Homo sapiens: one gene and its partner. The protein of the gene in region 2 interacts with the protein of the main gene of each other region in a pairwise test. Each region holds a gene or a part of one and is shown on either strand. Other genes may lie near its edges. The genes, in order: HEMK1 and TUBGCP5.

Region 1 (15,672 bases), on a different chromosome or scaffold from region 2:
CGAACTCCCGACCTCAGGTGATCTACCCGCCTCAGCCTCCCAAAGTGCTGGGATTACAGGTGTAAGCCACAGCGCCTGGCCCTCTTGGCTACTTTCTAAGTGATGGGCAAGCTCTCTGTGGCACCACCCTCTGAGTCTCACACCCCCAGGTCTCCCCCACACCCCAATGCCATCAGCCAGGCCCAATGGAGCAGAGGGCTCCAGATCACTCACACCCATTTTCCACATAAGTTCCCCAGTGCTGGGTTCCAAAAAGCATCTCACCCTTCCAGGCCCCCAAACCCAGCAACAATGTTCACCCACCCTGAGGGTGGCAAGTCCAAAGCAGGCAGAACTTGGCCAGCAGGTCCAACCCTCCATGTTCCAAGCCTCTTCTGCACCTAACAAATGATTGCCTGTGGGTGAGGGGGCCCAGTTCCAGCAGGAGAGAGTGTGTATTCACTAGCTCTCACCAGCCCTGTGCCAGGCACTACTGGAGACCACTAAGGTACTTGTGGCAAGCTTAGCCTGCAAGGTTGGGCCAGGTACAGAGTGAGCAGTATAGGGCTGTGGCTGAGAGCCTGTGGTCTCAGTGGTGAGGCCACAAGCTGAGAGGTTGGTAGGGTGACCAGTTGTTGTCAGGTGTGTAAGCCTCTCTTGGTTTCCTGGTCATAGACAGACCTACTCTGGCTGGAGAATGACCCCTCAGCCAGCCACACTGGCCAGCCACCTCACAGAGATACTCAAAGACCTCAAAGACACACACCACGTATGTGGATGGCCACCTTGGGGAGGGTAAGAAGCTAAGAAACTGAGCCCCTGCCACCACTAGTGGCCTCTTGTTTGCCATAACACTCCAGAGCACCGGAAACTCATCTTGGTTGTAGAGCCACCTGGGGCAGGGGTAGATAACAGCCCAAGGAGTCCAGAAACTTTCTCTTCTCCTCCTAGTGAAGAGCCTCCCTCAGCCTAACGCTGGTGGCTCTTTCGGCAAGACTAAAAGCCATGCTGGTCACAGGCTCAGGGCACCCCCTCCAGGTGAATATGGTAAGAATCCAAGAACAGGGTGGGGCACAGACGCATGCGGGAAAGAGGTGAGGGGCAGGCAGTTGTTGGCTCTGCCTAGAACTGCTGCCCCAACATGGACTCCATACCCCATCAAGAGGCTGGCCCAAGGCCTGGGCAGAACCTAAGTGCCCATGAGTACCCTCTATTAGGATGGCATCCCTGGTGGGGCAGACCCAGGGAGGTGGCATTGCCTCCTTCAAGCCAATCACAGACAAAACACTGAGCCTCCCACAACCTGTACAGCCTCACAGCAGGCTGGGTGAGAATGGTTCACACCCCCAGCCCTGAGTTTCCTACTGTATTCACTGCCAGGCCAGGGGCTGAACCACCTTCTCACCCTTAGGGAAAATGCAACTCACTGGGCACATGCCTCCTGCAAGTTTGCACTTCAGACTCCCCTTTCATCAGAAACCATCCCCTGCACCCATTCTCACTACTCCCTGCCACAGGCCACGTCCTCTTGAGTTCTTGGTAAGGCATCCCCCGATGTGGCTTTACATTGGGGTGAACCTGGTGAGTTCTCAGAAATGTCTGCACAGCAAGATGAGCACCTGGCCTCCCAATCGCAGCATCTCCCCTCACCCCACCCCTTGCAGTAGAGCTGCTCTCTTGGCCCAGACCCATCCAAGAATCAGGGGGCCACATGGGAGCCAAAGTCCACACTTGATACTCAGAACCCTGGCACATATGGCTGGTGCCAGGTCAGCTCTGAAGGAACTCAAAAGTCACCATGCCCTGACCCTGGGAAGCCGGAGACAGCAAATGATCTCTTCGCCAGAGATCACGTGTTTTCAGGAGCCACAGGTAAGCCTCCCAAAGTCTGCAGGTGGCAGGCCACACCCTGCTCTGGGTCTCCATACTGTGTCCTAGGTCATGCCAATCCCAGATGGGGCAGCCCCATGTGAGGGATGGGGCTCTGAGCTGGGAGTCAGGAAGTCCACGTGCTGCCCCCATGCTCCCTTCCTTGACAGCCCTGTGACTTCAGCAAGGCCTCAGATTCCCTACTGTCCCTGCCCTGACACTGGGCAGTGAAGCAAGGACCTGGCCTCCCAACCACATGATATGGAGAGGAGAGGGGTCAGAGAGTTTCTTGGCTAGGGGACAGAAGCTGAGAAAGTGAAAGAAGGGTTTGGGGCCCCCTGGCCACAGCAGGGGAATGGGAACTAACCTTTCCCAGAAATGTTTGTGTGCCTAGGTCTTTCTAGAAACACTCCTTCTCAGAACCTGGCGCCCTCTGGCTTGCCCACCAGCTCTCACCCAGCTCTACTCCCTGGTCTGCGCCCTCTGGCTCCCAGCTCTGTCATCTACAAGGTCAGAGGGGAGTCCAAGAAGGGCCATATAAAGCGTCTCTTCCAGGACCAGGGTGCCTTACCAAGGGATAACACACTTGCGCCACACATCCCTAGTCCTAGTAATTTGAGGGACAACACAGGTGATTACCAGACCAGTCAGTAGACCTAAGAGGGCCACCAGATTCTCTGGGCTGGAGGGCTAACCCTCTCATCATCTGGGCCCAGAGATGGCAGGAGGGCAGTGACCTGCCCAAGGTTGCACAGCTGATACCAGGTCTCCAGGTGTCCGGCTGGAGCCCTCTCCACTTCCTCCATGCCTCCTGAGAAGCTGCTGGAAGACATTTGTTCCCTGTGGGTTGGGTGAGCCATGGGATGGCTCCCAGAGAAATGGCAGAACAGGCTAAGTACTTGGGCAGCACTATTTGAGGCACTCTGGGCCATTGCCAGACCTAGAGGCTGGGTTGATAGCTTGGAACATAACAGTCAAGGGGACCAACAGGAATCCTCTGTCCTCTGGGCTCTGCCAACACAGTCAGAGAGGAAATACATGTCTAGAAAGGCACTGTCCCTGAAGTCATGGGGCCCCAGTGCCCCCTGGAGGAAGCCTGGGGTAAGACTGGTGCCCTGAACTCCACCATCATCCTGATCCTGCCTTGCCCTGGTGGCACACCTACCTCTGTTTCTGGCCGAGGAATAAACACTGGGGGCACCATCCTTAGGCTGAGCCCCTGGAAGTCCCACTCTCCAAGGATGTACTGCACCGGCATCCTGCAGAGGGGGCAGCTGGGTGGTCATCAGGGACAGAGCTAGGACCAACAGGACCATGCCTGGGTTGAGATACCACTTGTGGCCAAAGGTATCAGGCAAGACCATGTCTCCAGGGCCTTGGGACTCCTGAGGCAAAACCCTCCCTCCCTCCCTTCTTCCTATTCAGTACCCCGGCCCCACTCTTGCCACTCCTGCACCCCAACACCTCCCTAGTCCTTGGACATTCTCCTCCTCCCTGAACTTGGTGGGGATAGGGGAGGCTGGACTGCTGCTCCCTGAACACATCCTTCAGGTCTGATCCATGGGTGCTCACCTCTGCAATCGACGGCTACTCAGCTCCCGGATACACTGTAGTTGCTGAGAGGTCAAGGGCTGGGTCCAAAGTGCCGGCCTCAGGCTCTGAAACTGTCCCCACAGAGAATATAAGTGGCTGGCTCACTGGGCCCAAGGCCCCCAACCCAGGTGTCTTATGTGGATAATGCCTGCCCAGCACTGGTCTGGAGGCCCAACCCTCTCATCATCTGGGCCCAGAGGGGGCAGCATCCTGCCTAAGGTTACACAGCTAACACCAGGCTTCCAGGTGTCTATCCCAGAACACTTAGGCAGAGATATATTCATTCATCCAACAAACTGTTACAGTGTGTGCCAGGCGCTAAGACGTTCCTTCAGAAAAATCCCATCAGTCTCAGCTAAGCACTCTTAGTGAACAGAAAACCTGGATATCCCTTCCCCAAGTCCTCCCTCCTCCCTCTTCCTGTCCTCTTGACAACACTAAACTTAACTGTTTTGGCTCCAAGGACATGAGCCACGATGTACTCACTGGATTCCCGGGCCTCAGGGATACCCCTCTTCTCAAAGACCCCAGTCCAGTGGCTGACCAGTTCTATGGCACTGGATAACCCAGCCAGAGGTGGTTGGGGTTGCCATGAGCTGAAGGCCCAGCCCCGGGTACTTCCCCTCCTCCCTGGGCCAGACAGGAGGGCCCACAGCATTCGGCCCCAAAGCTCCATGTCTCAGGGAAAGGTTCTCCAGAGTGCTTCCAGGTTCCCAAGTCTGCTTTATGATGTCAGCTGCTGAGGTGAGTGCTGAGAGTGGCCCCTGGACCCAGCTGGGTGGAGATGGAGAGGTCACAAGCTCTGGTGCCCCAAAATGGCTCTGGTCCTCAGATATAGTTGGTTGCCACCCTGGGAGTGAGAGGAACCAGGAAAGCAGGTGAGCCTTGTATGACACCCCCCCTTCTACCAATACATTGCCTGAGAATAGTTGTGCTCTTGCTCTGACACCCCCTTGACTCCATTTAGAGCCTTACCCACCTATTTGATCATTCTTGTCTTGGCCACTTACGTTTTCTTCACATTTTTAGCTGGAGTGGGCTGAGCCCATAGCTCAGTCTCTGCTAATAAACGGGTTGGTGGTAGGTTAGGGCACATATGTGGGGACAGGACAGATCTGTGTCTAACCTAGCGTGTGTGATCTTGAGCAAGTCATTATTTCTGATTTTCACTTTCTTAATCCATAAGATGGGGGAAAATCACACCAAACCCATGGCAAGCAATGCATTAGTCTATGAATATCCAAGGCCTGGGAGGCAGCTCAACACACAGCAGGGACCAGATGTTACATGATCTTAACTGATGTTACAAGAGGCAGATGATTGCCTTTAATTGGGAGCTTTGAATCTGACATTGTGTGTGTACTGTCATGGATGTACATGCTGAAAATTTCCTCCTAATTTAACCTATAATCCGGGACATCAGCGTAAACCACCAACTAAAAAATTTACAATTGTATATTTAAAGAGGTCACAAGCAAGTTTAACTGAAGGTTTAAAATCAGCGGTCCCCTTTGCTTCCAGATAAAAGTCCAAACTAGCGTTTATTAAGCACCTGCTAAGTGCCACATCTTCAGATACAAGTAGGGTCAGAGAAGGGAAGCGACTTGCCCAGCGTCACTCAGGTAGAAACTGTCCCAGGCAAGCTGGGCACGGTGGCTCACGCCTGTAATCCCAGCACTCTGGGAGGCCGAGGTGGGCGGATCACGAGGTCAGGAGTTCGAGACCAGCCTGGCCAGCATGGTGAAACCCTGTCTCTACTAAAAATACAAAAAATTGGCCGGGCATACTGACGCGCACCTGTAGTCCCAGCTACTTGGGAGGCTGAGGCAGGAGAACTGCTTGAACCCAGTTCAAGCAGGCGGAAGTTGCAGCGAGCCGCGGTCATGCCACTGCACTCCAGCCTGGGTGCCAGAGAGAGACTCCGTCTCAAAAAAAAGAAAAAAAAGACTGTCCCAGGCAAGACACGAACCCGAGTCCACCAGACTCCAGAAGCGGCTCTTGCACCAGTGCGCCGTCCCAGGAGCCAAGGCCCGAAGTCAGAAGTGTAAACTCCCTCACAGCTACGCACCGCATTGTTAACGACCCAGATGAGGCCCCCTCTCTCCAACCCTGTTTCCCCATCTGCACTATGGAGAATGGTACCGGCCAGGTCTCCAGGCGGTTGCAGTCGAAACACCCCGTTCCGATCCCCACCTCCCATGCATACCTGCCTGAAAGGCTGCCCCACCCACCCACCAGCCGGAGAAGCTGCCCCGAACTGGACGCCCGGACGTGCGTGGCCCGTCGCGCGCTCCCTCGGACGCCCCGCTTCCGGGGTCGGCGCCTTTAAGAAAAGGCTCGGGCGGACGCCGTAGCCCAGCTTCAGTGTTCCTATCGCTGGTGGGTTCCTCCCAGGAGACCCCTGCGGATGGGTGGGGAGGCTGTGAATTCCACTCCCTCTACGCTCGCAGGCCTGCATACAGGAAAGTGCGGGGATGTGTGTGGGGTTGACCCTTGGGGGCCCGGACCTGCCGGTCTTCCTTAAAATCACAGCAGGGATTTGGCTCCAGCCCAAGGGGATTGCTCCGAGCTGGCGTTTAGGAACCAGGCCGGGAGGTGTGTGGGCGGAGCCCAGTAGCCTGCCGGAAAGGGGGCGTGTCACCAGAGGGCCCGGGTGTTCCGGCGGGGACCAGATGTCCGGGGGCGTGGTCTATCTTAGCCTGGGGGCCGGGTGGAGCTGTGCATGGGCGGGTTCCAGTGTTGAAGGCTGGTCCAACTTTGGGGTCCAGTCCCAGTGTCGTGACCCTACCGAGGTCAGTGGCCCGAGCCCACCAGGGGGTCGGCCGACTGGCGGCCAGACCCCAGGGGCCGCTCTTTTACCGATTCGAATCTTGACTCTATTGGCAACTCCTCCAGGTGTTGGGACCTCTGGACCTCAGTTGCGCCTTCTATAAAATACTCGGCAGCGTCTCGCAAAGTGTGTCTTGTCAACATCTCCCCACCAGAAAGTACTGTTAACTAGAACACTGTTAACTACTTTTTTTTTCTTTTTTTCTTTTTTTTTTTTTTTTTTTTTGAGACGGAGTTTTGCTCTTGTTGCGCAGGCTGAAGTACAATGGCGCGATCTCTGCTCACTGCAACCTCGGCCTCCGGGTTCAAGCCATTCTCCTGCCTCAGCCTCCCAAGTAGCTGGGATTACAGGCGTGAGCCAACACGACCGGCTAATTCTGTATTTTTAATAGAGACAGGGTTTCACCATGTTGGTCAGGCTGGTCTCGAACTCCTGACTTCAGGTGATCCATCGCCTCGGCCTCTCAAAGTGCTGGGATTACAGGAGTGAGCCACCACGCCCGGCCTTAAACTGCTATTAAACATGCTGTTTCCCTGCCTCCTTCCCAGACCGGGAGACACAGGGGCGTTTGCATTTGTACCAGGCTACCCGGTGACTCCCATAAACTACTTTGAAAACCGGCGGATCAGGAGTATCTGAGGGCTCCTTCCCTGAGCTGATCATGCCGTGGATGGAAGCTATTGTGAGGGTATATGTAGACTTGCCTGGGTCGGGGTGCCCAATAATAAATCCACCCCACTCTCAACTTCTGTAGACGAAGATTCCCCATCTTCGTCTAGAACCCTCACACCAGAGGACCCGTCTGAGTAGAAAGCCAAGGTTCAGGAAGGGAAAAGCAGTTTCTTCAAGGTCACAAAGTCAGCCAGAGTTCAGTGCAGGCCCAAGGACTCCCAGTCCAGTGCTCTCCCCAAGTCTCCTCTGTACATCCATCCGCGTTTTGGGGGCTTGAGTCTGTCCTGGCACGGGTAGCTGGCAGGGGTCCCGAGTTCTGGCCCGGAAGGGCCTGGCCACCCACTGTCCTCCGCCCAACTTCGGCGCAGGCCACGGGGTGAGGGTAGTCTCTAAAAACTGCGACCAGGTTCTAGGCTCCCTCTGGGGGTGGAGCCAGACCCGAGCGACAAGCGAACGGTCCAATTCTGGGCGGGCTCTAGGCCCGACAGCCAATCGGAGGCCGGGGGCGCGGAGCGTGCAGGGAGGCAAGGCGCTGTAGCTTCGGGGATCCCCCGAGGCTGCTCGGCCCGGCCCCACCTCCGCCGTGGGTCCCGGCCCTACCCACCCTAGCTCAGGCCGGCAGAGCCAGCGCTCGCGGATGCGGCTGGTGCGCAGTAGCGGGCCTGGCCAGCGGCTCGGGGCTTGCAGGGAGGGCGGATCTCGGGTCGGACCCGCAGCCCCAGACGCCGGGCTTGGGGGTTCCCCCCGCCCCGGCCTCCTGCCAGTCACTACCACCCCTAGCCTCTCCAACTGAGCTCGGCGCCGGGAGAGGATTAAGTAAGTGCTGAGGTCACTGCTCCTGTGCAAGAAGGGAGGCATCACAGGGTCGCGGAGGCGGGCATGGGGATTGGGGCAGGGAGGACTGAGAGACCTGGTGGAGAACAGCATGCGGGTTCTCGAAGGTCGCGGTGCCGACCCCTTTTACCCCGGTTTCCTTCCCTTCCCCTTTGGACCCTGAGGCAGGCCTGGAAAGTGGTCAGTAGGGCCTCTTCTCTCCTTTGGGAGGCGATGTTAACAGAGCCCCAGGGCACGAGTTAAGGGTTTGGCCCAAGGTCACGCCCGGGATCAGTTGCAAAGCCAAGAAAAGAACCCGGGACTTCCTATGTGCCCAGATGTGCCCAGCCTAGCTGGAGGGAGAAGGCAAAGAGGGATGAGCCTTTCTACCCCATAACCCTCTGCCAGCCTTGCCCCTTCCTCAGGGACCATCAGAGGTGTTTACACATCTCACACACGCCCATGCATCTGCACAGGGAGGCAACCCCACTAATGCCCATGAACCAGCACAGGGGGATGTATGCACCCACGAGCTAGGTATCCCTCCTCTCCCTAGGCCGTCCCATCTGCAGCTTGGCTGGCACCTCTTCCCACCCCACCTTAACCAGGGCCCTCTGCACTGGGCAAATCTCTCACCCTCTGCTTCCAGGGGAGGAGGGTAAAGGAAGAGAAGGCACCCACACTGGGAGCTCCATTCCTGCCTCGCCTTTCTCCTTGACCCTAGCAGCCCCTCTATTGTTGGTGGGTGGGGAGGGCAGTCCAATGTCCCCGAGAGCCTGCGGAGAAGCCCCGCCAGAGAACCAGAGCCTCTCTCTCCTTCTTGTCTTCTGGTCTTTCCACATCAGCCTCCACCCACACTCCAAGCATAGTCTGGACCATACAGTGGACTGGGTCCAGGGGCTCCCTTGGCTCCCCTTTGTGACTGGGTTGGCCATGGGGAGAAAATCTAACATGTAGTGGATGCTTACTGTGGATGGGGGTTGTGCTGAGCTAAGTCTTTCTTCGACACCTGTTTGTTCTGCCATTTCTGTAACCCCATGACCCTGTGGGGATGTTCTCAATATCCCCACCTTAGACTCAGGAAAACGGAGACACAGAGAGGTGGAGTGACTTTCTAGGGATCACTAGTTAAGCAGCTGAGCTAGGTTTCAAAGACAGGCCTGTCTGACTCTTGGGCAAGTGTTTCCCTCCAGGAAAGGAAAAAGCTGTGGTATTTTTTCCCCCAAGCAGGATGAGGGATGTGGGAGGCAGGGAATGAGGAGGTGGATATGGGGAGGTGGGGGATATGGGGACGCAGGTTGAGGGGAGTTTTTGATCAGGGGAGGGAGACTTTTTCTTTCAAACATCCCCGCTGCCTTTCATATCTTCCAGGTTTGATCACTATGATCATCTCACCCACAGACAGAGGATGCAGGGCTTCATTTTTGTTCCCAAAAACAGGGGCACCGTAGATACGTAAAGTATGTGTCCTAATGTCTCCTGAACTTACCCTCATTCTTGCCCTCAAACCTTTACCTCCCCAGTGCTTTCAGAACCTAGAGAGACTTCATCTCACTACTGAGCCCCTGTCCTTAGCCTCATGTTTCTTATTCTTTCCTTTCTAGCACCCAGGAAGGCAGGGGGCTCCCTTTATCCAAGGAGGTGGCTGTGCAGGTGGCCACCACAGGTGGCAGGAACCACAGGCTGGGGCACTCCGGAGTCAGGAGTGAGTGGGCAGGTTGACTGGCATCAGGCAGCCTCTCAGCCAGGGCCCTCTCCGCATCAGCATGAACTCCAGGACCGCATCTGCTAGGGGCTGGTTCAGCAGCCGCCCACCCACCTCTGAGTCTGACCTGGAACCTGCCACAGATGGGCCAGCCTCCGAGACCACTACCCTCAGCCCAGAGGCCACCACCTTTAATGACACCAGAATCCCTGATGCAGCTGGTGGCACGGCCGGCGTGGGTACCATGCTTCTGTCCTTTGGGATCATCACGGTGATAGGCCTGGCTGTGGCCTTGGTGAGAGCTGGGGTAGGCTGGGGGAGGATAATCAGTGTTTAGATTTATAGAGAACCTAATCAATCAGAAGACAATCTGGTTGTTGTTATTGTTGTTTTTGAGACAGAGTCTTGCTCTGTCATGCAGGCTGGAGTGCAATGGCTTGATCTCAGCTCACTGCAACCTCCACCTCTGGGGCTTAATCGAGTCTCCTGCCTCAGCCTCCCAAGTAGCTGGGATTACAGGTGTGAGCTGCCACGCCCGGCTAATTTTTGTATTTTTAGTAGAGATGGGGTTTCGCTATGTTAGCCAGGCTGGTCTTGAACTCCTGGCCTCAAGTGATCTGCCCCCGTTGGCCTCCCAAAGTGCTGGGATTACAGACATGAGCCTCTGTGCCCGCCAACAATCTATTAATGAGAGTGCAGTCCTCCTCTCCTGCAGAGATTTGTCCACTGGGGCCCAGAGACCAGAGAGGCTACGCTTCCAACTGGAAACAACAGAAAAGGTTCTTGGGAATACATGGTGTCTTGAGCTGGGTCATGAAGGCCACATAGTAGTCAAGGAGTTCCAAGTGGAGAGTCCTGATGGGCAAAAGTTTGGAGGCAGACAGAGGGTTCTGTGAGCAGCCAGCAGGACAGTTAGGGCAGTGGATGTGGGGTTGCAATAGAAGAAAAGGCTTAAAGGTGGTTGATGTGGACCGTGGGCTGCAGAGTCTGGGTAAGATGATCTGTGCATGGGAGGCTGTTGGCAGTGAACATTCATTTATTCACTTGGCAATTATTTACTGAGTACCTGCCCTGGACCAGGCCTTTGGAACCCAATAGAGGCTGGGAAGACAAGGTCCTGCCCTGTGGTTCTTACAGGGAGTGGGAAACAGATAAAAACCAAGGGTTCCAAGGGAAGCCTGCAGGGACTGACTTGGGGACTCAAGCAGGAAAGCAGGAATGCTTTCCAGACTAGGTGGTTAGGAACAGCTGAGGAGCAAAATTAGAGCTGAGACCTCAAAGTGGAAGCCTGGCCTCCGTGTCATGAGAAGGGGTGGAGGTGGCAGCCATCAGGAAGGAAGGGGGCTGGGGAGAGGGCTGCAGGTATCCTTCAGTAGTGAGTGTGATGCCTCTTGATCTGGTGTCAGTCCCTAAGGATATGGGCTGTCCCCCTAAGATGATACATGGACACTCAGAATGTCACTGAGGGACCACTGGAGATCGTGCAGGCTGAGACTAGGGAGGATGGGGTGCCCCTGAGGTTCCCCAGTATGCCTGGCAATGGTAGGATTCTGCCCACTGCTCCTCGCAGGCTCTGATGGCTGGCCTTGGGCTTAGGAGCATGTTGCTCTGACAAGTAGGGCTGTGGATGGCCCATCATGGCCTGGTTGGAGCTGCTGTTAAACCAGGGTTGCCATATGGGCCCCACAGGCTCCAGATTGCTGCCAGGGAGCAACTGCCAGCCAGCAAGCAGGCCCAGGGTGCAGCACAGGCAGAATGAGGCCAGGGCCTGAGAGGTCTCCTGGGTGGAGGTAAGGCAGGATGCCAGTGTTTTCCCTTGGCACCCATGCAGTGGGTAAGCAGATGGAGGCACCCTTAAGGGCAGAATGGGGCCTAGAAACTGCCCTCGTTACTTTCAGTGAAAGGTTTTGTCCTTGGAACTTGAGAACGCTCTCTTACTCTTTGTTCTAGAGGAACATTCAGAAGGCCTGGGTGGATGCCCCTCTTGCCAAAATCAGAGGTAGGAAGCTCGTAGGACAAAGGCAGCGGAGGGCAGAAGATAGCTCCTGGGGACCGGAGACAGGCCCAGAGGTGCTCACTGAGTGCTGCTTCCTCTCCCCGATGCCAGCCTCAAGCAGGGCCGTGGGTACAAGGAGGAGCAAATCTGCACCAGGCTTTCTGCCTTACCCAGGAAGGAAAAGTGCTTGGTACAGGCAGACCAGGATCAGTGGTGGGGGAGGTTCCTGGAGGAGAGGGGGCTGCACCTGCTGGACAGTGAGGGGTAGGGAAGATTTGGAAAGGAAGGTGTGGGGGTGGCTGTTAGCTGAGGAAGAGGGGAAAAGGCATGGAAATTGCGTAAAGGTTCTGGCCTTTTCTGTAGATCCTTCTGAATCCCAGGGTCTCAGGGGAGGGAGGAGGGCTTGGGGCAAGGGCTGAGAGGTGGGGACCACAGGGGCTGGGGCTGGGGCTGGATCCACTTGCTCAGGGTGGCAGGGGCTAGGCCAGAAGACCCCAGAGTTCCTGTCACAGCCTACCCACAGGAGAGCAAGGGAGCACCCCTACATGCAACCCTGGACAGGAGGGGAGAGTGAGGATTGATACCCTAGTTTCTTTTCAGGTTTTGGGGGTCCTGCAGGAGGAGCTCTGGGCCAGGCTGGAAATCAAACCAGATTCAAGCTGTGAATGGGGCACAAAGAATGTGGGAGGATTTGGGGTAAACCACAGGGCTGTGCTTTCCCCGAGGCAGAGGTAGTCATGCTCCTGGTAGTCAGAAACTGCCAGTTTAGGGAAGAGCAGGATGATGGCAGAAGTCCCTGGATTCCCCGCCCAAGGTGGTCCCCCAAGTCTTACCCACTTCCTCCCTCTCCTCAGGGCATTGTACAGGGTTTCTTACTCTGGCCTAGAGGTCCTAGATGTTTTCTCAGGCTGCCTAGGCCCTCATCTTCAAGGTTGTACAATGGGGGACCGGACCTAGGGGCCTTCTTAGGTTCCTCTTGCATCAGAGTTTTTGGGAGTTGACCTGGGCTGATGCCTAGGGGCTCCAGTCCCCCACCCCTACCTTAGTCCACTGGGGGCCGTCAGCCTCCCATAGGAACTCCGGAGACCACCAGCTCAGGGCCTTGCCTAGAGCCACTGCTCTACACGCTACAGAGTCTGGCCACTGCCTGTCTCTGGTTCTTTTTACATGTTGTAGAGACGGGGTGTCAGTATGTTGCCCAGGCTGGACTTGAACTCCTGGGCTCAAGAGATCCTCCTGCCTCAGCCTCTTGAGTAACTGGGACTACAGGCATGTGCTACCTTACCGGGTCCCTTTACTTTTTGCCTGCATGTGGCTTTGAGCCTGGGAAGAGTTGAGGGGAGGGAATGTGCTGAAGTTTTCCCTTTCTTCTTCAGCCCTGGGGAGCCACAGGCAGGTGCTGAGTGGCTGGAGCTACAGTTAGTATTGGCAGCCCAGCCAATAGGTGGGGCCCACCAGTCCCCAGGCCGGGCCTAACTGTGTGGGCTCCCAGGCTGGAGGGAGCCTCTTGAGTCCCCAGACTCAGTCTGGGCACTGTCTGCAGCTAACAATGTCAAAAGGAGGCATGGGGCCAGTGTGGTGGCTCACGCCTGTAATCCCAGCACTTTGGGAGGCCGAGGCGGGTGGATCACAAGGTCAGGAGTTCAAGACCAGCCTGGCCAACATGGTAAAACCCCATCTCTACTAAAAATACAAAAATTAGCCGGGTGTGGTGGTGCACACCTGTAATCCTAGCTACTCAGGAGGCTTAGGCAGGAGAATCACTTGAACCTTGGAGGCGAAGGTTGCAGTGAGCCGAGATTGTGCCACTGCACTCCAGCCTGGGTGACAGAGCAAGACTCTGTCTCAAAAAAAAAAAAAGAGGCATGAAGGTGAAGGGGGAGTGGTGTATGTGTCATTAGGACGGGGACCCACGGGTCTCTTGTTCATCAGCCTCAGCATGTCCCCATCCAGAAGGGCTGCTGGGTTCCTCAGGGCCTCCTCTCCTTGCCATTTGATGCTGCTCCTTCTCTTGCAGGTTTTGTACATCAGGAAGAAGAAGAGGTAATTCCCCACCCAAACCCAAATCCCACCCAAAACTTGAGGCCATGGGGAGTGCTGGGCTGGGCTCCGAAGGAAGTGGGTGAAAAGCTGATCAGGGAGTCAAGGCCTGTCCTGCCCATTCATGGTTGGGGGTGACCACTTTCCTTTGGGGAGGGTTGAGGGCCCCCCTTGCACAAGGATCTCACACACAGGGCAGGCAGGTGTGAGGATTCTAGATAACTGGGTATAATCCTGGGACTGGGGATGGCAGGGAGGGGGAAGGCTGGGATTACTCCCACCCAACTGCCCAGCCACCCTTGCCCTGCTGCTCTGAGCTGACTGCTACTGGCTCCCCAGTCCCACCTGAGACTCAGACGCTGTGGATTACAGCAAGGCCCTAGCCTAGGTGATCTCTGTGGGGCCCATGGATGACAGCTACTTGGCGTATGGCCTTACCCTGGAGTGGGTAACTGCTGCCTCCCTGGCTACCCATTTAAGGGGTTGAGCTGGTACTATAGGTGCAAAAATGTCTGTCATTTTTTCCCATTTCAAGGGAAACCTTAAGGCCCTAAGCATGGTTGTGTGCTGTGGCTCAGCTAGTCAGGAGGCAGGGCCTGGAGGGCTGCTGGGAGGGGAAGGGCCTGCCCTGTCCCCAGCAGCCTTTGCCCCCATCCCCAGGCTGGAGAAGCTACGCCACCAGCTCATGCCCATGTACAACTTCGACCCCACGGAGGAACAAGATGAGTTGGAGCAGGAGCTGCTGGAGCATGGGCGGGACGCCGCCTCTGTACAGGCTGCTACTTCTGTGCAGGCCATGCAGGGCAAGGTGGGCACTGACCAGGCTCCCCACCCCGCCTGCAGCATCCTCTGTCCTCCACCCTCACCCTCCCTCCTTTCTCATGCAGCTTTCTAGCACCTGCCTTGTGGTCAGATGGCAGGTATTGGGTATACGGCTTTTTCCAGATTTGTTCAGAAAGTGGTCATATTGCTCTGGGGCCACCCACAAACTCACAGCGCAAGGCCAGGCCAAGGCAGTCCTGGGATACAGCCTGGCTCTGCCCCATAGCCTGCTGATCTTGGGAGCCCCACTGGCATCTCTGAGCCTCAGTGTTCTCTTCCACAATTGAAAATCCTAATTCTTGCCCCATGTGCCCCCACGTACTGGTTAGGAAAGTAGGAAAGGACTAATGGGAGAGACTGTTGGCGGCTAGGACCCCAGGTTCCTCTGCTTCCTGAGGGTCCGTGGTCCTGAGTGGGTTGTGGATGGGGTTAGACTCTTGGACAGCGGTACCTCTGAGTAGGCTGGTGGATTCCCAGTGGCTGACAGACCCAGGCATGTGAAGATCTCAGCCAAACTTGCCTCCTGTGTCCAAAGGGATAGGTACCTGTGTGGCCATCCTGTTGTAACCACTGGGCTGCCTGACCACTTGCCACCATTTCCCCAAATCCCCAAGGGCCAGAGCACCATGAGCAGGCCTGGCCTGCCCCTGACTTATCCAGCCTCTTTGCGTCTTCTTGGGCTCAGAAAGAATCCAGGCTGGAAGTCTGAAGACCCTTTGGTTTTGCCACCAGCTCTGCATCACCTGGGTCAAGATATATTGCCCCCTTGGGATATTCAGGAACTCGCACTGAGAACCTTGGTCCACCCAGCCACTGGGACTTCTGGCCACTTGATACTTGTTTCCCATGTTCCTCCTTGTACCAGCCCCTGTGCTAGGGCCTGGGGATACAGAGTCCAGCCCTCTGATCCCCCACTGGGAAAAGGCAGTGCATGCATAATTAAATCAACACAGTAAGTGCCTCCAAGGTGACAGGGCAAGCTGGGGAGGAGTCATCTGAGCCAAGTCATATTTGTAGGCTGAGCTTGCAGGGAGGGCATTCCAGGCAGAAGCCATTGCTAGTGCCAAGCATAAGCAGGCACCAGGAAGTGAGGGTGGAGGTGACCAGGCCAGTGAGTGCATGGCCTTGCCCATGGTCTCTGATGCCCCTGCCTGTCTTCCTGCAGACTACTCTGCCCTCCCAGGGCCCACTGCAGAGACCCAGCCGGCTGGTGTTTACCGATGTGGCCAATGCCATCCATGCGTGAGTGGCCTGGGACAAGCCTGGACTTCTGATAGAGACCCATCACGGTGCCTACAGAGCTCCCCACTCCCTGATTGTCAAGACCTACTCTGAAGATCTTCCCTGCCAAGA
Region 2 (14,924 bases):
TTTTATGTAAGAAATCTTTGTCTACCCCAAGTTTGTAGTGTTAATTTCCCATGTTTGCTTCTAGAAGCTTTCTAGTCCTAACTTCCACATTTTGTTGTTTCCAGTTCTAGCTTTCATATTTTTTTTCTTTTTCTTATTTTTTTCTGAGACAGAGTCTCGCTCTGTCGCCCAGGCTGGAGTGCAGTGGCATGATCTCAGCTCACTGCAACCTCCGGCCACCCAGGTTCAAGCAATTCTCTGGCCTCAGCCTCCTGAGTAGCTAGGATTACAGGTGTGTGCCACCACGCCCAGCTAATTTTTGTATTTTTAGTAGAGACAAGGTTTCACCACATTGGTCAGGCTGGTCTCGAACTCCTGACCTCATGATCCACCCACCTTGGCTTCCCAAAGTGCTGGGATTGCAGGCATGAGTCACTATGTGTGGCCTTTTTTTTTTTTAAAGATAGTCTCACTCTATAAAAAGAAAATATGGAAAAATTTAATAGTAAGCATAATTCTATTCAAAATATAACTGGTTAGCTCACAAAAATTGCTCAGAAATATTGCCAGGCACAGTGGCTCACGCCTGTAATCCCAGCACTTTGGGAGGCTAAGGCGGGTGGATCACCTGAGGCCAGGAGTTCGACACCAGTCTGGCCAACAAGGTGAAACCCTGTCTCTACTAAAAATACAAAAATTAGCTGGGCGTGGTGGTGCACGCCTGAGATCCCAGCTACTCGGGAGGCTGAGGCAGGAGAATCACTTGAATCCAGGAGGCAGAGGTTGTAGTGAGCCGAGATCGTGCTACTGCACTGCAGCCTAGGTAACAGAGTGAGCCTCCACATTTCAAAAAACAAGGAAATACCAAACAATAGTATGTACCAACAGTTGGCCCTAAGTGAAGTTGGCCTTTTACATTTATCGCTATCAGTTGAAGCTATTTTCCATGTAGAACTTCTCAGGCACAACAAAACATATATACATTTCTTTCTTTCTTTTTTTTTGTTGGAGACAAGGTCTTGCTCTGTTGTCCAGGCTGGAGTGCAGTGATGCAATCATGGTTCACTGCAGCCTTGACCTCCCGGTCTCAATCGATCCTCCCACCTCAGCCTCCCAAGTAGCTGGGACCACAGGCATGTGCCACCATGCTTGGCTAATTTTTTTTTTTCGGAGTCTTGCTCTGTCACCCAGGATGGAGTGCAGTGGTACAATCTAGGCTCACCGCAACCTCTGCCTCCTGGGTTCAAGTGATTCTCCTGCCTCAGCCTCCCAAGTAGCTGGGATTACAGATGTGGGCCACCACACCTGGCTAATTTTTTTGTATTTTTAGTAGAGACGGGGTTTCACCACATTGGCCAGGCTGGTCTTGAACTCCTGACCTCAGATGATCCGCCCACCTCGGCCTCCCAAAGTGCTGGGATTACAGGGGTGAGCCACCGTGCCCAGCCCTTGGCTAATTTTTAAGTTGTTTTTGGAGAGATGGGGTCTCATATGTTGCCTAGGCAGGTCTTAAACTGCTGGCCTCAAGGAATCCTCTCACCTCAGTCTTTCAAAGTGCCAGGATTACAAGCTTGAGAAACTACACCCAGCCAAAATATAAACATTTCTAGGACAGCTACATCTAAGACAACTTTTAGGGAAGACAACATGTAAAACTCTATATAAAAAGCTTCTGTGACTGTAGGACAGCAGCAAAAGGATAATAAAATGATTTTAAGTCCTTTAATTTATTTTGAATATCAGTAATTACATTTTCAAAATATGATATAATTTAAAGGTATCAGTACCATAAATCTGTATCTTACAGTAGGAAATGTAAGAGTAAACAGCCTATATACACTTTGTACTACTGACACAATTTTATGTATACAACTCTATACAGTATCTACTAATCTCCAGAAAACCCACCTACAATCCATCTGTCTGGACTGTGGGCAAGTGGTTCTTTCTGAGTCAGGGTCTCACTCTGTCACCCAGGTTGCACTGCAGTAGTGCAATCATGGCTCACTGTAGCCTTGACCTCCTGGGCTCAAGTAATCCTCCCATCTTTGCCTCCTGAGTAGCTGGGACTACAGGTACACACCACCATGTCTGGATACATTTTGTATTTTTGGTAGACACCGGGTTTCACCATGTTGCCCAGGCTGGCCTCAAACTCCTGGGCTCAAGTGATCTGCCTGTCTTGGCCTCCCATCGTGCTGGGATTAGAGGCATGAGCGACTGTGCCAGGCTGACTGTGGACAAGTTTTACAAATAAACCAAAATAAAAATATTTTCACTTTTCAGCTGCACATGGTGGAAATGTACATGTATGATGACAAAGTCGGAGATATTTATTACGCTGAAGACATTTAACTTTGTTCCATGCCAGCCATGAGTGACAACGCTAGAGATTCCACTGTGGGAAGAATAAAAATAAGGTTAAAACAATAGGTTTAAATGTTGAAAAAAAATTTTTTTTGAAGACGGAGTCCCACTGTCACCCAGGCTGGAGTGCAATGGTACAATCTCAGCTCACTGCAACCTCTGCCTCCCGGGTTCAAGCAATTTTCCTGCCTCAGCCTGCTGTGTAGCTGGGATTTCAGGCATGTGCCACCATGCCTAGCTCATTTTTGTATTTTTAGCAGAGACAGGGTTTTGCCATGTAGGCCAGGCTGGTCTTCCAACTCCTGACCTTAAGTGATTCACTCAACCTCCCAAAGGGCTGGGATTAGAGGCATGAGCCACCGCGCCAGGCCAGGAGCTTTAAATTCCTAAAAAAATTTTTAAAAAGACTAGATTTTGAAAAGAAATAGTTACAAAAACTACACGATAGTGAAGTGTGACAGAAATCTATTCTGCCATCAACTTTATTTAATAGGAGTTTTAGAAATCTGTTGTAATAAATGGTATACCAGAAAGTAAGATCCTCAGGCTTACACTCACCTCACCGTAATGCTTAAAAAGCAATTCAAAGCATGGGACAACTGCTAAGGGACTTTTCAGTTTTGAAAATGGTGAGAATTTCTAATTCTTCATGGGATCAGTAACAAAACAATGACACATACACTTAGTTACAAGGAAATACAGAGGTAGAAATATTTTAACATGATATACTCACAATGGGGAAAGGATCCTCTACAGACGGCTTTGTTTAAAATGGTTACAAGAAACATATGGCAGTTTTTAAAATCAGATTCCATTTTCTCTATAGATTCCATTCTAGGAATAAAAGTAAATTTCAATTAAGTAAGTGCATTGCGGGTATATAGGTAGGCTTCAAGATATCTGTGGAGTAATTTCAAATGTATTTTGGTTTAATTATTTAAAATCCTAAATCTAAAGATTATAAAATAAAACACATAACGTCCTACCCTACTTTAAAATAAAAAATGTCAAAGTGTTTCAAAGGAAGTTTCATTAGGATATAAAACTGTGCTGTTTCCAGATAGTATCTAGTTCTGGAACTAGGAGGACCAAAGATACTCCCTTTTCCTTTATACAGTCTTGTTTTTATTGTTTACAAGCATACATTCTCTTTGAAATAAAGAACACATTAAGGATATAAAACTTAAAATCTGAAATTATTTTTAAAAAGGTTTTTTTTCTTTTTGAGATGGAGTCTTGCTCTGTCGCCCATGCTGGAGAGCAGTGGCACGATCTCGGCTCACTGTAACCTCCGCCTCCTGGGTTCAAGTGATTCTCCTGCCTCAGCCTCCTGAGTAGCTGGGATTACAGATGCCCACCACCATGTCTGGCTAATTTTTGTATTTTTTGTAGAGATGGGGTTTCGCCATGTTGGTCAGGCTGGTCTCGAACTCCTGACCTCAGCTGATCTGCCCCCACTGGCCTCCCAAAGTGCTGGGATTGCAGTTGTGAGCCATGGAGCCTGGCTGCCTTTTTTTTTTTTAGACAGAGTTTCGCTCTTGTTGCCCAGGCTGGAGTGCAATGTAGCGATCTCGGCTCACCACACCACAACCTCTGCCTCCTGGGTTCAGCAATTCTCCTGCCTCAGCCTCCCAAGTAGCTGGGATTACAGGCATGCACCACCACGCCTGGCTAATTTTGTATTTTTAGTAGAGATGGAGTTTCTCCATGTTGGTCAGGCTGGTCTCGAACTCCTGACCTCAGGAGATCCGCCCACCTCAGCCTCTCAAAGCACTGGGATTACAGGCGTAAGCCACTGTGCTCGGCTTTCTTTCTTTCTTTTTTTTTTTTTTAAAGAAATATCAAACACTTTGTAAGAGAGAACTTCAGAAGGGGTTTCCATGGCCCACTGCCCAGCCATGGCAGGTGCCACATGCCAAGCTTACACCTCCACAGCCCCACCACAATATTCAGAAGCAAACAGGAGACATCAGAGCACCACAGTCATGAATATTTCATAAGTATAAATGTATACTTTAAAGATAAAGACTCCTTTCAAAACACAGCCACAACACCATTTGCTCAAAAATATCATCTAATAGCATTCAAGCAAATTTCACATTGCTTCTACAATTTTTCACTTTTCGGCTTTAAGTCTCAATCAGGAACAATTAACTTATCCATAAACTGCGATGGTTGATAGACTTCTTAAGTTCCTCACCCCCTGTATTTTTCTCACATTTATTTGTAAAAAAAACCTGAAAGAGTTGAATTTCAGCAAAGCATATGCAGCAGTGTTATTTCTCCTCCACCCCAAAGTGAGACAAAAAAAAAAGAAAAAAAAAAAGCAAAATATATTTTGCACACTTTGAGCCAGCAATATAAAGCGAGGAAGACTTCTATTTCCATCCCTGCAGCTATGGCTTCATCTACTACCTTAGTTTCTTGATTCCGAGTACAGCCAATGGGAGATTTCGAATTATACTAGCACTCAAATGAATTCTTACTTCCTTACTGACATGGAGTAAGTACAGTCAACCAAACATGCACTTTTATTTCATGGAAGTAACAGCAGAATTACTGTTGCACTGACTTTATAAACAGGACAGGTAACAAAATATTGAGCTGTACACTGGAGTTAACAGTAGAGGATGGCAGTGCTAGAGGGAGCTGCTCCCGGGCCACTTCCCCTGATTCAGTGCACTTGCCTATGTGATGTGTGTGAATAACAAACACTCTCAAAACACAGCATCTTTTAGAGCTCATCCAAAATACAACTTTGGAGAATAGTCTAGCATGATGTCCAGAATTTGATTTAAAATAATTCAGCAAGTGTGACTGGGGAGGTGGGCACAGACATGACAGAGCTGTCCTCACTGGCACAGCTGAAGCAGGTGCCATCACGGTGTTCACAACACTGTCTTTGCCACTTCAGTTTGAAGGTGTCCATGATAAAAATTTAACAAAACGTACACAATATAACATGAGTATAATCTAAAAATGTTTGCTTGTTTAAATCAGAAGACCTCAGATTTTTAAAAATGTTTTACTTCTCAAAAAATACTTGCACTTTTTTTTTTTTTTAAAGACTGGGTTTTGCTATGTTGCCCAGGCTAGTCTTGAACTCCTGGGGTCAAGCAATCCTCTCCTCTCAGCCTCCTGAATGGCTGGGAAGACCCTGTCTCTAAAAAAAAGGGAAGCTGAAGCTGAAATGGTCACAGTGCAGATGCTGCAGAAATCACATACTTACCGCCAAGTGCCCAGGCCTGCCTGCCAACCGTCTGCAAACATGAGAGCCAAGTTCAACACCTTCATGATAGCTTCTTTCACAAAGCTGACCTGCAGACCAAAGTCACAGAACACAAACTGTGTAACTAGGTTTGGACACTGATACCAACACTTTTACCTATTTTAAATGAATCACAGAAAAAGTTCATCACCACAGTGACTGCCTTCTGTGTATATGGAAGGGTACTAGGCTCTGAACCATGCCCATTTGGGACCAGGCACATGCATTCACTGAATGTAAGATACAAGTGATATTAGCAGTACAGTCAAACCAACAAAACAAACTATTAAGACCTTTTCCTGGGATGGCCATTTAAATTCACCAATGAAACTAGGACAAATAATTGCAATGGTTTTAACATTACTGAATTCTATCTATTCACATGAAGTGGACATGCTATTGCTCCGCAACTGCAGACACAATTTTCCAAATGAATCCAAGAGTAACGCAGAGTGAGTGTTGACTATCACACATAGTTCTCATGTTGCTCTTAGATACAATTTCTACGAATAGGGCACTCCTCCTTCTGTTTTTTTTTTTTTTTTTTTTTTTTTTTTTAAGAGACAAGGTCTTGCTCTGTTACCCAAGCTGGAGTGGAGTGCAGTGGTGTCAGATCATAGTTCACTGCAGCCTCAAACTCCTGGCCTCAAACAATGCTCCCACCTCAGCCTCCCAAGTAGCTGGGCCTCCAGGTATGCACCACCATGTCTGCTAATCTTTTTAACTTTTTGTAAAGACAGAGTCTTGCTATGTTGCCCAGGGTGGTCTTGAACTCTTGGCCTCATAAGATCTGCCTGCCTCAGTTTCCCAATGTGCTGGGATTACAGGCATGAGCCATTGTGGCCGGCCTGGGGCATTTGTTTGTAACCTCATTTCATCTGGTTCTTCCTTAAAGAATATTCTACAGGACAGAAGCTTAATCATCATAAAATTCCAAAGCACGCAGACAGCGCCACTCGCCCAGCAGTGGCCACATCTGCAGGAGACATCTCATGTACCTTTTCTCTCAGCAGACACCGGTCATGGATGGTTGACAGATACCTATAGTGAATTTTAATCAATTGATCTAAATCCTTGGCTTCCTCGACTTGATGTTGAAACTCCAGCCCTGTACTGTGTAGAATCTTGGAAGAGAAAGATAAAAAGCTTCATCAGCAGCCTTCTTTGAGGACTTGTGTGCTGCACACAAATCTTTTTTACTAAGCTCTTCTACTCCTCTCAAATTCTTCCTTCAATAAGCACATCTAGACAGTTTCATAAAGTACCATTCTTCAAAGGCTGGCTGGATACTCTGGCGTTCTGATCCTAAGAGGACGGCGGGGGCAATCCTGTAGGACGCCCACTTGCACAGTGAATGAATGAACGCCAAACTCTGGACTAACAGACTTCCTGGCAGGAAGGGGCAAGCACATTAAGCTGTATATAAGACACATCGATAAAAAAAAAATCAAGTAAATGTGTTACTTTTATACAAATAATTACAGTGAATTTATGTTTCTTAAGTTCCTTTTCTCATACATTGATCTTTCTCTAAAATGAGTATAAGTATACCTCAAATAAAAAACAAACTAAGAAAAAACTTAAACTCTTATCATTTACTCTTAACAATTAGGGGCTTAATGAAGGCCAACCTTGTGAAGGCAGTAATGCAGTCAGGGGAAACGTGGAGCCCCTCTGCCATAGCCTTCCCATCCAAAACACAGGCTTCAGTGGCTCACTTCACCCAAGCAAGTTGGGTTTCAGAACTCACAGACCAGGTATAAACAGGTCTAAACAACAATTCAAACCCCAAATGCATACTGTCCTCTAATAATACTGCTCTTGTTCCAATTTCTGAACGCTTCTTTTAGAACTTCCCCTAGAACTGGCTTTTAGATGTATCAGAAAAATAATTTCATTTACTTTGTAGTGAGTTCTTGTTTTTAAGAAAAAAGTCTATAACCTGGCTGCATCTTCCTCCCACACACCGTAGTGGATTTTGGCTGTTATTAAACATTGGAGCCATTTTTTAGGGACAGCTGTCACCACTATTGAAACCTAAAGGACTATGCGGCACATTCTGAAGGCAATTCCAGAAGACGAGCTGTGGCTGTGCCTGTCCCCAGGGGCTGCTGGACTGGAGGGACAACAGCCTCTGGATACACATATTCCGGTATATTTACAAAAACATTCCTCCCACTGCCATGTTATTTTATGATCAAATTTGCTACATGTCCCGTTTTCACAGTCTGTAGGTATTTTTTACTTATAAACATAGTATGAGTAATTCTCTACGAACAACTGTATAGATACGACGATAGAACTGAAGCAGATGGGAGAGGCACAAACCCTGGTCATGATGTAGTTGTGCAAGCTGTTCACGAAATGCATGAGCTTCACTCTTAAGAGGAACATGCGATGAATCTGCTGTCTTACTGGTTCTTTTTGTGGTCCGAACTGAGCAACTGTGTCTTGTTCATGTATAAGGCCTTCTTTAAGTCGTGGTTTTTCTGCAGTACTAACCAGTTCTATAAAACATTGGAAGAGCAAAGTGGACAGAAAGAGCATCAACTCAAACCCCACTGCACCATGACGCCTGGCAGAAACACTGACGGATGTGGTCCTGGCACCACAGAAAGCACTGGCAGGGGTGGCAGGAACCGAACCTCAGTGCCTCTGGAAGGTGCAGTGGGAAAAGTTTCCTGTATCACTTTTCCTAATCAAGTTGTTGCATTTCAGATCAACTGTACATACAACTTCCTGATCTTTCTTTCAGGCATTTGATGTCCATAAAACTACTGCTAGAATACGCACCATTTTGGCATTTGTGTACACATAAAAAATGATCAACAACCACCAACTTTTTTTTTTTTTCCAGATCCCCGTATGCTTCCCTTTCCCATTAACCTCTTTTATTAAGGGCTAAAATTAAATAAAATTACAATTTATCTGCTGAAAACAAATCTTACCACCAAAAAGTAAAACATCCAGACTATATTTTGCCCACTTTATTTGCAATAAGAGAAGAAACACTTGATTATAAATTTTTTGACATTCCAAACTTATAACAATGTCCACGGGCCATGGGACCTATGAAACAAAAACAAAATTAGAAAGTAACCAATTACTTGCATGTTTTAATGTTAGCAGAAAACACGGTTCATACAAGGAATATCAGCATATACCTTGTAGCTGAGGGTCAGACCATCTAAGATATGAACAGGCAGCTTCTTCTTAGCTGTGTCAACATTTTCAAAAGATATAGATAGACTAAAGAAAGAAATTCCAGTTTTAGTTTGTGAAAGCACTATGTCACACAAAAATGCTCTTTTAAAATAATTGGTATTTCATTTACATAATATTCCCCAAAAGATACTGCATTTCATAAAAGAAATGCAAACATTCCAACAAATGTATCTCTTCTAACATATATTCCAGAGCAGAAATTTGGATTTAGAAACAGAGAGGGAGAAAACTTTTAAACAATGAGTTTAGTTAAAGAGACACTTAACAATGGTAGTAATTAGAAAAAGGATGAAGCTGAGGAAGACAGTAAACTTCAGGCAATGGCTGGGAAGATGAAGCCTCTGCTGAGGTTGGGGGTGGGCAGGAGAGGACGAGCAGAGCAGCTCGACGGAGCCGAGCATGTGGTGAGAGTACTGCTTCGAGAGCCCCATCGAGATGGGATGGGGTCTGCTTCTACACCAGAGGCACTGTGCAGTGCTTCATCCACAAGTTCCTGAGACAGGTTTGAATGTGACTCACAGAGGAAAGCAAGCATCTAACATGGACATGAAAATGTCCAAGTGCCAGGCACTATTATGTGTCCTTAGCTCATTTAATCCTCAAAATACTCCCATCAGTGGTTCCTGAGAAATGATGTCCTCTTCCACAGTCACAGAGGCACTAAGAGGGGATGCCTGGATGCATATGAAGAAGGTTTAAAGTGGGGAGTTAACTTCCAAATCAGAGATGTCACAGGGCAGTGTGTGATTATGAACTGGCTGATCCATGACACAGGCACTAGTCAGAATTTTTAGCTCTTTGCCGGGTGCGGTGGCTCACACCTGTAATCCCAGCACTTTGGCATCCTCGAGGATCACGAGGTCAGGAGATCGAGACCATCCTGGCTAACCCAGTGAAACCCCGTCTCTATAAAAATACAAAAAATTAGCTGGGCGCCTGTAGTCCCAGCAACTCGGGAGGCTGAGGCAGGAAAATGGCATGAACCCGGGAGGCGGAGCTTGCAGTGAGTCGAGATTGTGCCACTGCACTCCAGCCTGGGTGACAGAGCAAGACTCTGTCTCAAAAAAAAGAATTTTTAGCTCTTAATGGCCTGATATGTATGCATTCACTCAGTGCTTAGTAGGCATCTACCAAATACTAATACTAAGTTAGGTGCTGCACTGAGCAGGCAATAGAAAGCCAATCTCTCTTCCCTCCAGGGACTCCCAGCCCAGTGCAGCACACGAAGACAAGGGGGATGTAGGAATGAGCAGACCTCTGCCGGGCCCATGAACTGGAGACTATGTCACAGGGGGGCGGGAGGACAGCACTAGCAGACACCAGAAATATTCTGAAATCCCTGAAACGCGAAGGAAGACAGGAAAGAGAACATGGTGTGTATGTGTGCAAGACATGAGGCTGGGAAAATGGAGCCAGACAGTAAATAGCTTTCTCCCTTCTAAGACAAAGCTTAGTCCATCTGTTTAGGAGGCACCCACGGGGAGCATAGGGATGAGTGGTGGAAGTCACTGCTGGTGGTCTGAGGTCACCCTGGTGAGGGTCAAGTCCGTTTTGGTGGAAGGGAGTGAGGCTGAGAGACACAGAGGTCATTGGGGAGTTCTGAGCCAGTTCTGAGAGGTCAGGGGCATTCTCTAGGAGGCAGGACTGAAAAACCTCATGTGTGGGAGCTCAGGGAGAGGAAGCACTGACTCCAGCCATGTGAAGGAGGCCATCAGACCCTGACAGGTCGTATGGTGGCAACTTTTTTCTTTTTTTATAGGGACGAGGTCCCACTATGTTGCCCAGGCTGGTTGCAAACTCCTAAGCTCAAGCAATCCTCCCACCTTGGCCTCCCAAAGTGCTAGGATTACTGGCATGAGCCACTGCATCTGGCCATATGGTGGCATCTCAACGTCTTTTGTTGTTTAGCAGGAGAGTCACATAGCTAGCCTCTGCCTCAATTTTTTCTTTTTTTTTAAATGGAGTCTCGTTCTTGTCGCCCAGGCTGGAGTGCAGTGGCATGATCTTGGCTCACTGCAACCTCTGCCTCCCAGGTTCAAGCGATTCTCCTGCTTCAGCCTCCCAAATAGCCAGGATTACAGGCGCCTGCCACCATGCTTTTTGTATTTTTAGTAGAGACAGAGTTTCACCATGTTGGCCAGGCTGGTCTCGAACTCCTGACCTCAGGTGATCCACCGCCTCTGCCTCCCAAAGTGCTGGCATTACAGGTGTGAGCCACCGTGCCTGGCCTCCATTTTCTAATAAGTAAAATAATATTAGTAAAACTCATAGGAATAGTGAGGATAAAATAATATGTGTAATTCATAGAAGACTTACTGGCACATAGTTCATGTTACACTAATTTAAATAAAGGTGGCGTCCATATTTTACCGTGAACTATCTTCAGGATAACGCTGTCCTACTGCTTCTTGGAGTTGGACATTAAGAAAAGACACATTCTGCCATGTTTCCTTTTCTCTTATTTTATCAAAAATTGACGTGTAGAAGTCATACATGGTATCTCCTCCTTCCATTAAGAAAAAATTCCTCATAGCTTGCAAGTATTCTACCAACCTGAATGGAGAGAAAATGAGTGACACTAAGATCTCTGGCATTCGTAAGGCAGGATTCTGGATCAACAACAGGTTTTGTAACCTGTTTTTAGTGGAACAAGTTTACATTCTACATTTACTAAAATTAGAAATATTAACACCTCTTAAACTTGTTCCAATAATAAAAACAGCATAGGTTTTCCTTTCATCATCAGAAAGGTTATCTTCTATAACATTATAGAAAATTGGGCAGTCACAAAAATGTAACAAAAAAAAATCCAAATCCCATCATTTATGGTGGATTTCCATCATTAATATTTAATATCTGGAATGTTTCTTTCCTGTCTTCTCTTCTATGTGTTAAGAAAACCTAGTTCCTACCGTATTATATCTCCTGCTTTTTAATTGCCATAATTTTTTTTTTTTTGAGATGGAGTCTTGCTCTGTCGCCCAGGCTGGAGTGCAGTGGCCCGATCTCAGCTCACTGCAAGCTCTGCCTCCTGGGTTCACGCCATTCTCCTGCCCCAGCCTCCAGAGTAACTGGGACTACAGGCGCCCGGCACCACGCCCGGCGAATTTTTTGTATTTTTAGTAGAGACGGGGTTTCACCGTGTTAGCCAGGATGCTCTCGATCTCCTGATCTCGTGATCCTCCCACCTCAGCCTCCCAAAGTGCTGGGATTACAGGTGTGAGCCACCGTGCTCGGCCTAATTGCCATAATTTTTATGAACTTTACAAAGTTCATATGTGGGTATGTATATGCCATATTTATGGATATGCATAGTTTAAAAAACTAGTCATCTATCACTAAGTAATTTAGTGTTTTTCATTCTGATAACAAACTTTGTAATTTTTCTACAAGCTTTTTCTGTATTTCTTTTGGGAAAGATTCTCAGAAATAAAGAATTAAGTTTCAAAACATAGTTAAGAAAATATTGATGGTCAATTGATTTCTCTTAGAAAATTGTTTACTGTATATCCATTTCCTACTCTAATAAAAATTGAAATAGGTTTTAAAATAATCTCAACTGTTCTTCAAGTACAATCAACTATTTACTACTTCCAAAATTAAATTACTCTTTTACCTGTAATCTTTTTTTAGAGTTTGCATGAGATTTCCACAGCAATCTAGATACTGCTTGTCAATATGAGGATAGAGGCAGGATCTCAGCGTTAATTCAAAAGTCTGGCATGTCACAGATTCCGATGATCTATCCACACATACATCACCACCAGCAAACTTCTCGTGAAAGTCACTCTGCTCCAAATACATCCTTCAAGATAAAAATGTGAGTCTTCTTTTTATGAGCTGCTGTCAACAGAACTCTCTTAAATCAAAACCCTGAAGTTCCATTTTTACCTTTAGTCTTGAAGTTACCAACTATTACAGAAAGAGAAAAATCTTTCTCCCAAAAATATCCTTTGAGTGAACCAGTCTCTTGAAGTTGCCACTGACTTAGGGTCAGGTACTAGAGCTGGTCTTTCTAGTGATTAGGGCTGGACACAGCAAATGCTGGCCATTAGACAACCGGGAACTGTGTGGGTATTAATGACTTACTCTAATGGACTAAGTGCCTAAAAGCAGCTTAAGCCCAGGACATATTATATGCCAGTGGGGACCCTGACTCAATGGGTGTCCAGGGCCCACTCATGGCCCAGAGTTTCAGCATCTTCTGGGTAAATGATGACATTTCCAGGGGCCCGAGGGCACAGACAAAAGTTGTACCACATGGTGGCAGGGCCAAGTCTGCAGACTTCCACAAACGACATGGAATCCAAACTATACACCTGAAGTAGGTGAGCACAACATCTTGTATTCTGCTTGTTATAAAGGATAGGCATGGCATGGTGGCTCACACCTGTAATCCCAGCACTTTGGGAGGCCGAGGTGGGCAGATCACCTGAGGTCAGGAGTTCGAGGCAAGCCTGGCCAACAGGAGGAAACCCCGTCTCTACAAAAAATACAAAAATTAGCGGGGCATGGTGGCACATGCCTCTAGTCCCAGGTAGCTGGGAGGCTGAGGTAGGAAAATTGCTTAACCTGGGAGGCAGAGGTTGCAGCAGTCAGCCAAGATCACACCACTACACTCCAGCCTGGGTGACAGACTGAGGCTCCATCTCAAACAAACAAAAAAAAAAAAGGAAAAAGAAAAAAGAAAGGATAGCCTACAAGAGTTTTTGTTTTTAGCCCTACCTGCCAGAAATAAACAGTTAGCAAACATTGCACAAATGATGCCATTTCAATTACTGATAACCTTGCAGGTGTGTCTCACCTTGCAAAGTTAATGGCAAGCAGTGGATCATGAACATCATCCAGTTCAAGATGGCTTTCAGCAATGGACTGCATCTTCATCAGGTTCTCCTTGGTTGCCTGTTGCTCAGTAAGAACCTGTGGAGTGGAATCTTCTCCATGTCGAAGACGGGACTGTACAGATTCCAGAAAGAGAGTGTATAAACTTTTTCTTTCTGCATCTGAAACATAAAGAAATATGTAAGGTGAACTAAGTTCTGTTTAATCATATTAAGTAACATTCTGTTTAATCATATTAACATTAACAATATATTAAGTAACAAAATCTATATATTTATATATAAATATTAAATATATGTAAATATTAAATATATATATTTATATATAGTAACAAAATAATATATATTTTTTGAGATGGAGTTTTGCTCTTGTTGCCCAGGCTGGAGCGCAATGGCGCCATCTTGGCTCACTGCAACCTCCGCCTCCCGGGTTCAAACAATTCTCCTGCCTCAGCCTCCCAAGTAGCTGGGATTACAGGCATGTGCCACCACGCCCGGCTAATTTTATATATTTGTTTTTTAGTACAGACGGGGTTTCACCATGTTGGTCAGGCTGGTCTCAAACTCCTGAGCTTAAGTGATCCACCCGCCTCAGCCTCCCAAAGTGCTGGGATTACAGGCGTGAGCCACTGTGCCTGGCCCAAGAAATATTAAATAATATCATGTCCGGGTGCAGTGGCTCATGCCTGTAATCCCAGCACTTTGGGAGGCTGAGGCGGGTGGATCACTTAAGCTCAGGAGTTTGAGACCAGCCTGGGCAACATGGTGAAACCTCAGCTCTACAAAAAAATTAGCTGAGTGCAGTGGAATGTGCCTGTGGTCCCAAGCTACTTGGGAGGCTGAGGCACGAGAACTGCGTGAGCACTGGCAGGTGAAGGTTGCAATGCGCTGAGATCACGCCACTGCACTCCAGTCCAGTTTGGGCAATAGGAGTGAAACCTGACTCAAAAAAAAAAAAAAAAAAAGAGTAAGATCCTAATCAGCACACTTGAAATTTATTACAATACTGCATAACACTATGGTAACCCTGATAGGAGTCGCAGTCTCATTGGAAAAAACACTTCTGACAGTGGCCCTGGGAAGCTCACTACATAAGAAGGAAATATTCCACAAAGTGAAAATAAGTATTGCATCTACTTATTTCAAGTAGATACAATAATATAATTAACATAACATTGAGATGATTGAGATGTATAAATAAGGTCACATCTTTATCTTCCAAGCCTTTTTAGTCAGTTGATAAA

Evidence for each region.
Region 1: the proteins of TUBGCP5 (region 2) and HEMK1 interact in binary tests that used the Homo sapiens proteins (3 or more experiments, as listed by UniProt).

Annotation. Positions count from the first base shown.
Region 1 is NC_000003.12:50,559,550-50,575,221, reverse strand, and holds the start of HEMK1 (MTRF1L release factor glutamine methyltransferase), read right to left. Parts: upstream 5,701-15,672; 5' UTR 5,648-5,700; exon of another isoform or gene 4,421-5,647; intron 4,320-4,420; exon of another isoform or gene 4,292-4,319; 5' UTR 4,118-4,291; coding exon 3,890-4,117; intron 3,513-3,889; coding exon 3,421-3,512; intron 3,146-3,420; exon of another isoform or gene 3,108-3,145; coding exon 3,014-3,107; intron 1,852-3,013; coding exon of another isoform or gene 1,396-1,851; exon of another isoform or gene 522-1,395; intron 1-521. Other genes in the region: uncharacterized protein C3orf18, read left to right, coding at 1,396-1,851, 13,475-13,500, 14,158-14,305, 15,485-15,565. UniProt on the Homo sapiens protein: N5-glutamine methyltransferase responsible for the methylation of the glutamine residue in the universally conserved GGQ motif of the mitochondrial translation release factors MTRF1, MTRF1L, MRPL58/ICT1 and MTRFR.
Region 2 is NC_000015.10:22,997,490-23,012,413, forward strand, and holds the end of TUBGCP5 (gamma-tubulin complex component 5), read right to left. Parts: intron 13,843-14,924; coding exon 13,644-13,842; intron 12,645-13,643; coding exon 12,456-12,644; intron 11,393-12,455; coding exon 11,210-11,392; intron 8,864-11,209; coding exon 8,779-8,863; intron 8,684-8,778; coding exon 8,563-8,683; intron 8,122-8,562; coding exon 7,943-8,121; intron 6,739-7,942; coding exon 6,613-6,738; intron 5,665-6,612; coding exon 5,576-5,664; intron 3,181-5,575; coding exon 3,080-3,180; coding exon of another isoform or gene 3,033-3,079; exon of another isoform or gene 2,795-3,032; intron 2,378-2,794; coding exon 2,331-2,377; 3' UTR 1,688-2,330; downstream 1-1,687. UniProt on the Homo sapiens protein: Component of the gamma-tubulin ring complex (gTuRC) which mediates microtubule nucleation.